Homo sapiens: one gene and its partner. The protein of the gene in region 2 purifies or fractionates together with the protein of the main gene of each other region. This does not show direct contact. Each region holds a gene or a part of one and is shown on either strand. Other genes may lie near its edges.

Evidence for each region. Proteins that work in one complex are often made in the same cells at the same time.
Region 1: the proteins of SRGN (region 2) and SPATS2 purify together in Homo sapiens (affinity purification with mass spectrometry, with the first as the bait; one study listed by BioGRID). This does not show direct contact.

What each region holds. Positions count from the first base shown.
Region 1 is NC_000012.12:49,499,824-49,503,625, reverse strand, and holds part of SPATS2 (spermatogenesis-associated serine-rich protein 2), read right to left. Parts: intron 3,557-3,802; coding exon 3,421-3,556; intron 1-3,420.
Region 2 is NC_000010.11:69,098,103-69,101,602, forward strand, and holds part of SRGN (serglycin isoform 1 precursor), read left to right. Parts: intron 1-3,500. UniProt on the Homo sapiens protein: Plays a role in formation of mast cell secretory granules and mediates storage of various compounds in secretory vesicles. Required for storage of some proteases in both connective tissue and mucosal mast cells and for storage of granzyme B in T-lymphocytes.

The sequences.
Region 1 (3,802 bases), on a different chromosome or scaffold from region 2:
CCAGGATGGAGTGCAGTGGCGCGATCTTGGCTCACTGCAAGCTCCTCCTCCCGGGATCACGCCATTCTCCTGCCTCAGCCTCCTGAGTAGCTGGGACTACAGGCGCCCGCCACCACGCCCGGCTAACTTTTTGTATTTTTAGTAGAGACGGGGTTTCACCTTGTTAGCCAGGATGGTCTCCATCTCCTGACCTCGTGATCCACCCGCCTCGGCCTCCCAAAGCGCTGGGATTACAGGCATGAGCCACCGCGCCCAGCTCTTTTTTCTTTGTTTTTTGAGATGGAGTCTCGCCCTATCGCCCAGGCTGGAGTGCAATGGCGCGATCTCAGCTCACTGCAACCTCCACCTCCTGGGTTCAAGCAATTCTCCTGCTTCAGCCTCCCTAGTAGCTGGGATTACAGGTGCACGCCACCACGCCCGGCTAATTTTTGAATGTTTAGTAGAGATGGGGTTTCACCATGTTGGCCAAGCTGGTCTTGAACTCTTGACCTTGTGATCTGCCCGCCTTGGCCTCCCAAAGTGCTGGGATTCAGGCATGAGCCACTGTGCCCAGCCAGCTCTTTATTTTCTAAACAAGCCAACAATATCTTATATGACAAGAATGCAGTGCAAAGGGCATGGTGCTTCCTCCTAGAGGTTCAGAAAGGGGAAAAATCAGTTACCTAAAATAATTTCCAGAAGTTAGACCTTAATTTAAGGAAAGTTTGGAGAAATGGTGGGATTTAGATAAATACAGAGGAATAGGAGAACATTTTCAGGCTGGGAAAGTGGCATTAACTAGTAGATGGAAGAGGAAATGTGAATGTTAAGTTTTGAGACAATGAGTAATCTGGCAGGAGCAAAAATATGTGTCAAGAAAAACAGAAGACAGCCAGGCGCAGTGGCTTATGGCTGTAATCCCAGCACTTTGGGAGGCCTAGATGAGAGGATTGCTTGGGCCCAGGAATTGGAGACCAGCCTGGGCAATATGGTGAAACCTCATCTCTACAAAAAATTAAAAAATTAGCCAGGTGTGGTGGCACATGCTTGTAGTCCCAGCTAGGGGACTAGGGAGGCTGAGGGTGGGAGGATGGCTTGAGCCCAGGAGGTGGAGGTTGCAGTGAGCCATGACCGTGCCACCGCACTCCAGCCTGGGTGACAGAGCCAGACCCTGTCTCAAACAAACAAAGAAAAACAGAAGACATGACATTAAATTCCTAGCCATAAAACCTGAAAAGTAAAACTTAGAGTTCAGGACAAGGCATGGGTAGACTAAGATGAATTATCTAGCCCCAAAGTAAGTTTTGGTTCTGATGATTTAACTTTTTGGAGGCATTATTTCATTTTGATTAACTACTCCTCTGCAATTCCAGAGACCAGGAGGACTGAGGGGACCTACACTCTCCTCTATCTCTTATATGTTGTGGCAAAAGTGACTAGACTAAATTTGTGAACAGAGACACAGTTAGGTATAACCTGAGGGAACAGTCTACAGGCAGCAAGAAAGCATGTATGGTTTGTTCTTTTCATGAACACTTCCTGTCATATTTCAGATCTAGACAGTTACTAAAAATAAGTATAATGAACAAGTTCTAAGTCTCAAAACATCACCCTAGCTGCTTGTCTTCCTGTCATTTTAATATGGTCCTTAAGTCTTTTCTAGTTTCAAAAAATCCCTTATAAAATACCTCCCACAAAGGAGCTAGAATTTAAACATCTGTTAACACCAGCTGGGCACGGTGGCTCACTCCTGTAATCCCAGCACTTTGGGAGGCAGAGATGGGCAGATCACCTGAGGTCAGGAGTTCGAGACCGGCCTGGCCAACATGGTGAAACCCCATCTCTACTAAAAACACACAAAAAATTAGCCAGGCATGGTGGCACATGTCTGTAGTCCCAGCTACTCCGGGAGGCTGAGGCAGGAGAATGGCTGCAACCTGGGAGGCGGAGGTTGCAGTGAGCCAAGATTGGGCCACTCCACTCCAGCCTAGGCGACAGAGACTCCGTCTCAAAAAACAAACAAAACAAAACAAAAAAACAAATATCCGTTAACACCTTAATATCTAACAGTTAAAACAGCTTCAGTGTTCCAGGAAACATTAGAATATTGCTATGGTTTGAATGTGATCCCCAAAGCTCGTGTGTTGGAAACTTAATCCTCAGTGCTACAGTGGTGAGAGGTGGGACCTTTAAGAGATGATTAGGTCATGAGGGGAGAGTCCCACAAATGAATTAATTTTGTTATTGAGAGAGTGGGTTCATTAGAAAATTGAGTTTGGCCCTCTCTGGCTCTCCCATGCATGCTCCCTTGCCCTTCTGCCATCTGCCATGGAATGACACAGCAAGGTCCTTGCCAAGATGTGGGCCCCTTGACCTTAAACTTCTCAGACTCCAAAACTGTAAAAAATAAATCTCTATTCACTATAAATTACCCAGCTTCAGGCAGATCACTTGAGCCCAGTAGTTCAAGACTGGCCTGGGCAACATAGTGAGACCACATTTCTACAAAATATTTAAAAATTAAAAAATGAGCCAGGTGTGGTGGTACATGCCTGTAGTACCAGCTACTTGGGAGGCTGAGGTGGGAGGATTGCTGGAGCCCAGGAGGCTGAGGCTACAGTGAGATGTGATCGTGCCATAGCATTCCAGCCTGGGTGACAGACAGAGTAAGACCCTGTCTCAAAAAACAACAATAATAATAATAATTAATAAAAGGGCACTTTATTGGAGTGGCATAAATTAAAAAGGATGGAAGAAGGTAGGAAAGCAAAGACAGATTTTTTCTACTTTATAATTTTGTTCAAAAACATACATCATGTCATTTGTTATAGGATCTTAGTTTAAAAGGAGACTTTTTTTTTTCTTTTCTTTTTTTGAGACAGAGTTTCGCTCTGTCGCCCAGCCTGGAGTGCAGTGGCGAGATCTTGGCTCACTGCAAGCTCCGCCTCCCGGGTTCACGCCATTCTCCTGCCTCAGCCTCCCGAGTAGCTAGGACTACAGGCGCGCGCCACCACACCCAGCTAATTTTTTGTATTTTTAGTAGAGACGGGTTTTCACCGTGTTAGCCAGGATGGTCTTGATCTCCTGACCTCAAGATCCGCCCACCTCGGCCTCCCAAAGTACTGGGATTACAGGCTTGAGCCACCGCACCGGCCTAAAAGGAGACTTTAAAGTATATGATCTACTCTATAATTATGTGTCCCTTTCCAAACAATATTAAACTCCAGCTCATTTCTAGAGCATTGTGAGTTATCTGTACCATTCTCACACTGTGACCAAGAGAAATAGAACAAAGCAGAAAGCTAAATATACCATAGGATTTATAAGTCTCTCCTACTATGTAGTTAGTCATGAATGAATGAACTTGGGGAATGGCTGACCATCTTTATATTTATATATGATCATTTTTATGCTACTGATATCAAATGCAGCTTAAATTACCAGCTCTCCAATTCAGCAAAGGCTTGTTTCATTTTCTTAATGGAGGCATCCATCTCTTCTTTAACTACAACTCGATACCGTGCAAGAGACACTGTGCAGCGCTGGAGGTCTTTTACAGATTTTTCAATATTGGAACCTTGGGGAAAAAAACCGAAATATTAAAAAAAAAAAAAGAATAATTATATAGGTAACTTGAAAGTCGGATCTGAACACCAAAGCCAAATGTCATGTAGACTAAGAATCTTTCCTAAATAACCACCTTCCCCAATGAGAAAAACATGTTTTTATAGATTTTTGGAAAAAAAAGGATCCTGGTCAAGATGGAATAATAATAATTGGATTTATTCTTCTATCTTAAACAACTAAAAACATACAAAGACAA
Region 2 (3,500 bases):
CTTTTCATCAACAGGTATTGAAAATGATTGAACATTGTTTTATTTGTGTAAACAGAACACACTATATATAAAAATCCAATAATTAACTGAATGGATAAGCAAAATGTGGTATAAGCATACAAAGGAATATTATTGGGTCATAAAAAGAATGAAGTACTGATACATGCTACAACATAGATAAACCTTGGAAACATTATGCAGAGTGAAGGAAGGCCAGACACCAAAAGCCACATATTGTATGATTCCATTTAGATGAAATGTCCAGAATAGGCAAATCCCTAGAGGCAGAAAGTAGATTAGTGGGTTACAGGGGCTGGGGAAAGGGAGGAATAAGGAGTGACTGCTAATGGGTATGAGGGTTTTTTTTGGAGGAGGTGATTAAAATGTTCTTCTGCCAGGTGTGGTGGCTCATGCCTGTAATCCCAGCACTTTGGGAGGCCGAGGCGGGAGGATTGTTTGAGCCCAGGAGTTTGAGGCCAGCCTGGGCAACATAGTGAGACCCTATCTCTATTTCAAATACATTTTTTATATTAAAAAAATGTTCTTCAAGTAGTTGGTAATTATTTTTAAAAATGGCCAGGTGCAGAGGCTCATGCCTGTAATCCCAGCACCTTGGGAGGCTGAGGTGGGAGGATCCCTTGAGCCCAGGAGGTTTGGGACCAGCCTGGGCCATACAGCAAGACCCTGTCTCTACAAAAAATACAAAAATTAGCTAGGCATAGTGATGTGCACCTGTGGTCCCAGCTACTCGGGAGGCTGAGGTAGGAGAATCTCTTGAGCCTATGTTGAGCCTGCAGTGAACCCTATTTATGCCATTGCACTCCAGCCTAGGCAACAGAGTAAGACTCTGTCTCAAAAAAAGAAAAAAAAAATTAGGGAAAGGAAGAATAATTAGCCAAGACTTGTAAAACAAAAATCAAATCTCTTCTTTTGATCACATAAAACTTGCTTTAAACTTGCAAAAAAGACCTGATATAAATTCATAAGTAACAAAAAATTGAATTATATTAGAAACCATTAATTCAATGAATACTAAAGCTATGTAGGATGTAGCAAAATATACATATTAAGAAAAGGATTATCATAAAAGTTTTAATCTCCAGGCTCAAACCTAGAAAATCACTCTCCTCAAAGCCAGGGTTAATCATCATGCTCCAAACCAGGTACATTTCACATCACTTTGGGATCCTGGCAACTTTCTCTTTTGTTTTTTTTTTTTTTTGAGACAGGGTCTCCTCTGTCACCCAGGATGGAGTGCAGTGGTGTGATCATAGCTCACTGCAGCCTCGAACTCCTCAAGTGATCTTCCTGCCTCAGCCTCCCAAGTAGCGGGACCACAGGCACACAGCACCATGCCCATCTAATTAAAAAAATTTTTTTTTGTAGAGACAGGGGTCTCTGTACATTTCCCAGGCTGGTCATGTACTCCTAAACTCAAGCAGTCCTCCCACCTCAGCCTCCCAAAGTGCCGGAATTACAGTCATGAGCCACCATTCCCAGCGCTGGTGACTTTCTCCATCACTGGTGACTTTCTCCATCACTGGTATTCACTGCATTAGTGATGACATCATTACAATCTTCAATATGCAACTTTGTAGTCCTACTCTTGCATTCTTACTTTAAAGCCTCAGCATTAAGTTTGAATGTAATATTACAGCATCCTTCATTACTTTAAATCATTGGTTTCAATAGTAATTCATTTAAATCTAAAATGTTAGGCTGCAGTGGCTCATGCCTGTAATCCCCCCAGTTTGGGAGACTGAGGTGGGAGAATCACTTGAGGCCAAGAATTTGAGACCAGCCTGGGCAACACGGCAAGACCCCATCTCTAAAAATTAGTGGCCCGGCGCTGTGCCTCACGCCTGTAATCCCAACACTTTGGGAGGCCGAGGCGGATAGCTTGAGGTCAGGAGTTCAAGATCAGCCTGGCCAACATGGCGGAAACCCATTTCTACTAAAAATACAAAAATTAGCTGGGCATGGTGGCACGCCTGTAATCCCAGCTATTGAGAGGCCGAGGCAGGCAGACTGGGAGGCCAAGGCAGGCAGATTGCTTTGAGACCTGCCTGGGTAACATGGAGAAATCCTGTCTCTACAGAAAAATACAAAAATTAGCCAAGCATGGAGAAACCTCGTCTCTATAGAAAGACACAAAAACTAGCCATGCATGCCTGTGGTCCAGCTACTCGAAAGGCTGAGGTGGGAGGATTGCTTGATCCTGAGAGGTCAAGGCTGAAGTGAGCCATGGTGTGGCACTGCACTCCAGCCAGGGTGACAGACTAAAACCTTGTCTCAAAATAAATAAACACATTTAAAATAAATAAATACAATTAAAACTAAAATTAAAAAATAAAATAAAATGTTAAGAGAATAGCTCAAATTCTCCAAAAGAACTCTTGCACACCATTCCTCCTCTTCTCAAATCTCTATTTTCCTTCCCCAAAGCCAGTAACTGCTTCTCACCCTGACCCTGTGCTTTCTTTCCCGTCATTGCGAAAGAATGGTCCTTGCTTCTGTGCTGATCCCAAACCCTTTTGCCCTCAGATCCTCCTGTCCTTCCCTGGCCCTGCTCTGTATTGGCTGTGGGGTGGGGGTGGCGGTGGAACTGACCCCTGGCGTCTGCATTTCTCAGGCTCCCAGGGCTGTGGCTGACTTTGGCCAATGGGAGGCAAGGACGGGAGACTGAGAGCTTGGGAGGAAGGGAGAGAGGTATGTTTCTTCTCCTTACTCCCTGCCTGGGATGGCACCTTGGGCAGGACTCTGTTTTGCCCATGGCCTCAGCTCCCACCAGATGCCTCTAGTCCCTGGGCTCAGGAAATAGACAACCTCCTTCCACTATCGCTGTAGCCCAAGGAGGGAAGTATTTTTTTCTTTCTTTCTTTCTTTTTTTTTTTTTTTTTACAGAGTCTCACTCTTGTTGCCCAGGCTGGAGTGCAGTGGTGCGATCTCAGCTCACTGCCACCTCTGCCTCCCGGGTTCAAGTGATTCTCCTGCCTCAGCCTCCAGGGTGTGCCACTATGCCCAGCTAATTTTTGTATTTTTGGTAGAGACGGGGTTTTGCCATGTTGACCAGGCTGGTCTTGAACTTCTGACCCCAAATGATCTGCCTGCCTCGTCCTCCCAAAGTGCTGGGATTACAGGCATGAGCCACTGTGCCTGGCCGAAGGAAATATTTTCTTGCTATTGCTAATCTCTGGGTTACCTCGCTATCCCCCATTTAGCTTCACTTCTCCTCCATCACCTGTATGAGGAATTCCCTCTGTGTTAAATATCTGGAGAAGTTTCCTGATTGGACCCTGGCTGTTGCAGCTTCCAAGGCCACCTCTCTTTGTGGCTGGTATCCTTTTCCCATGCATCTTCTCCAGGACTTCCATTCTGCAGTTATCTCTCTGAACTCAGTGTCTTCTTCCCATCAGTATAGGGGTGGACTTTAGTATCTCCTATGTTTAGGCAACATCTCTCCTTTGACTCTGCGTCTTCTCCAGTGGTTGCCCTTCTCT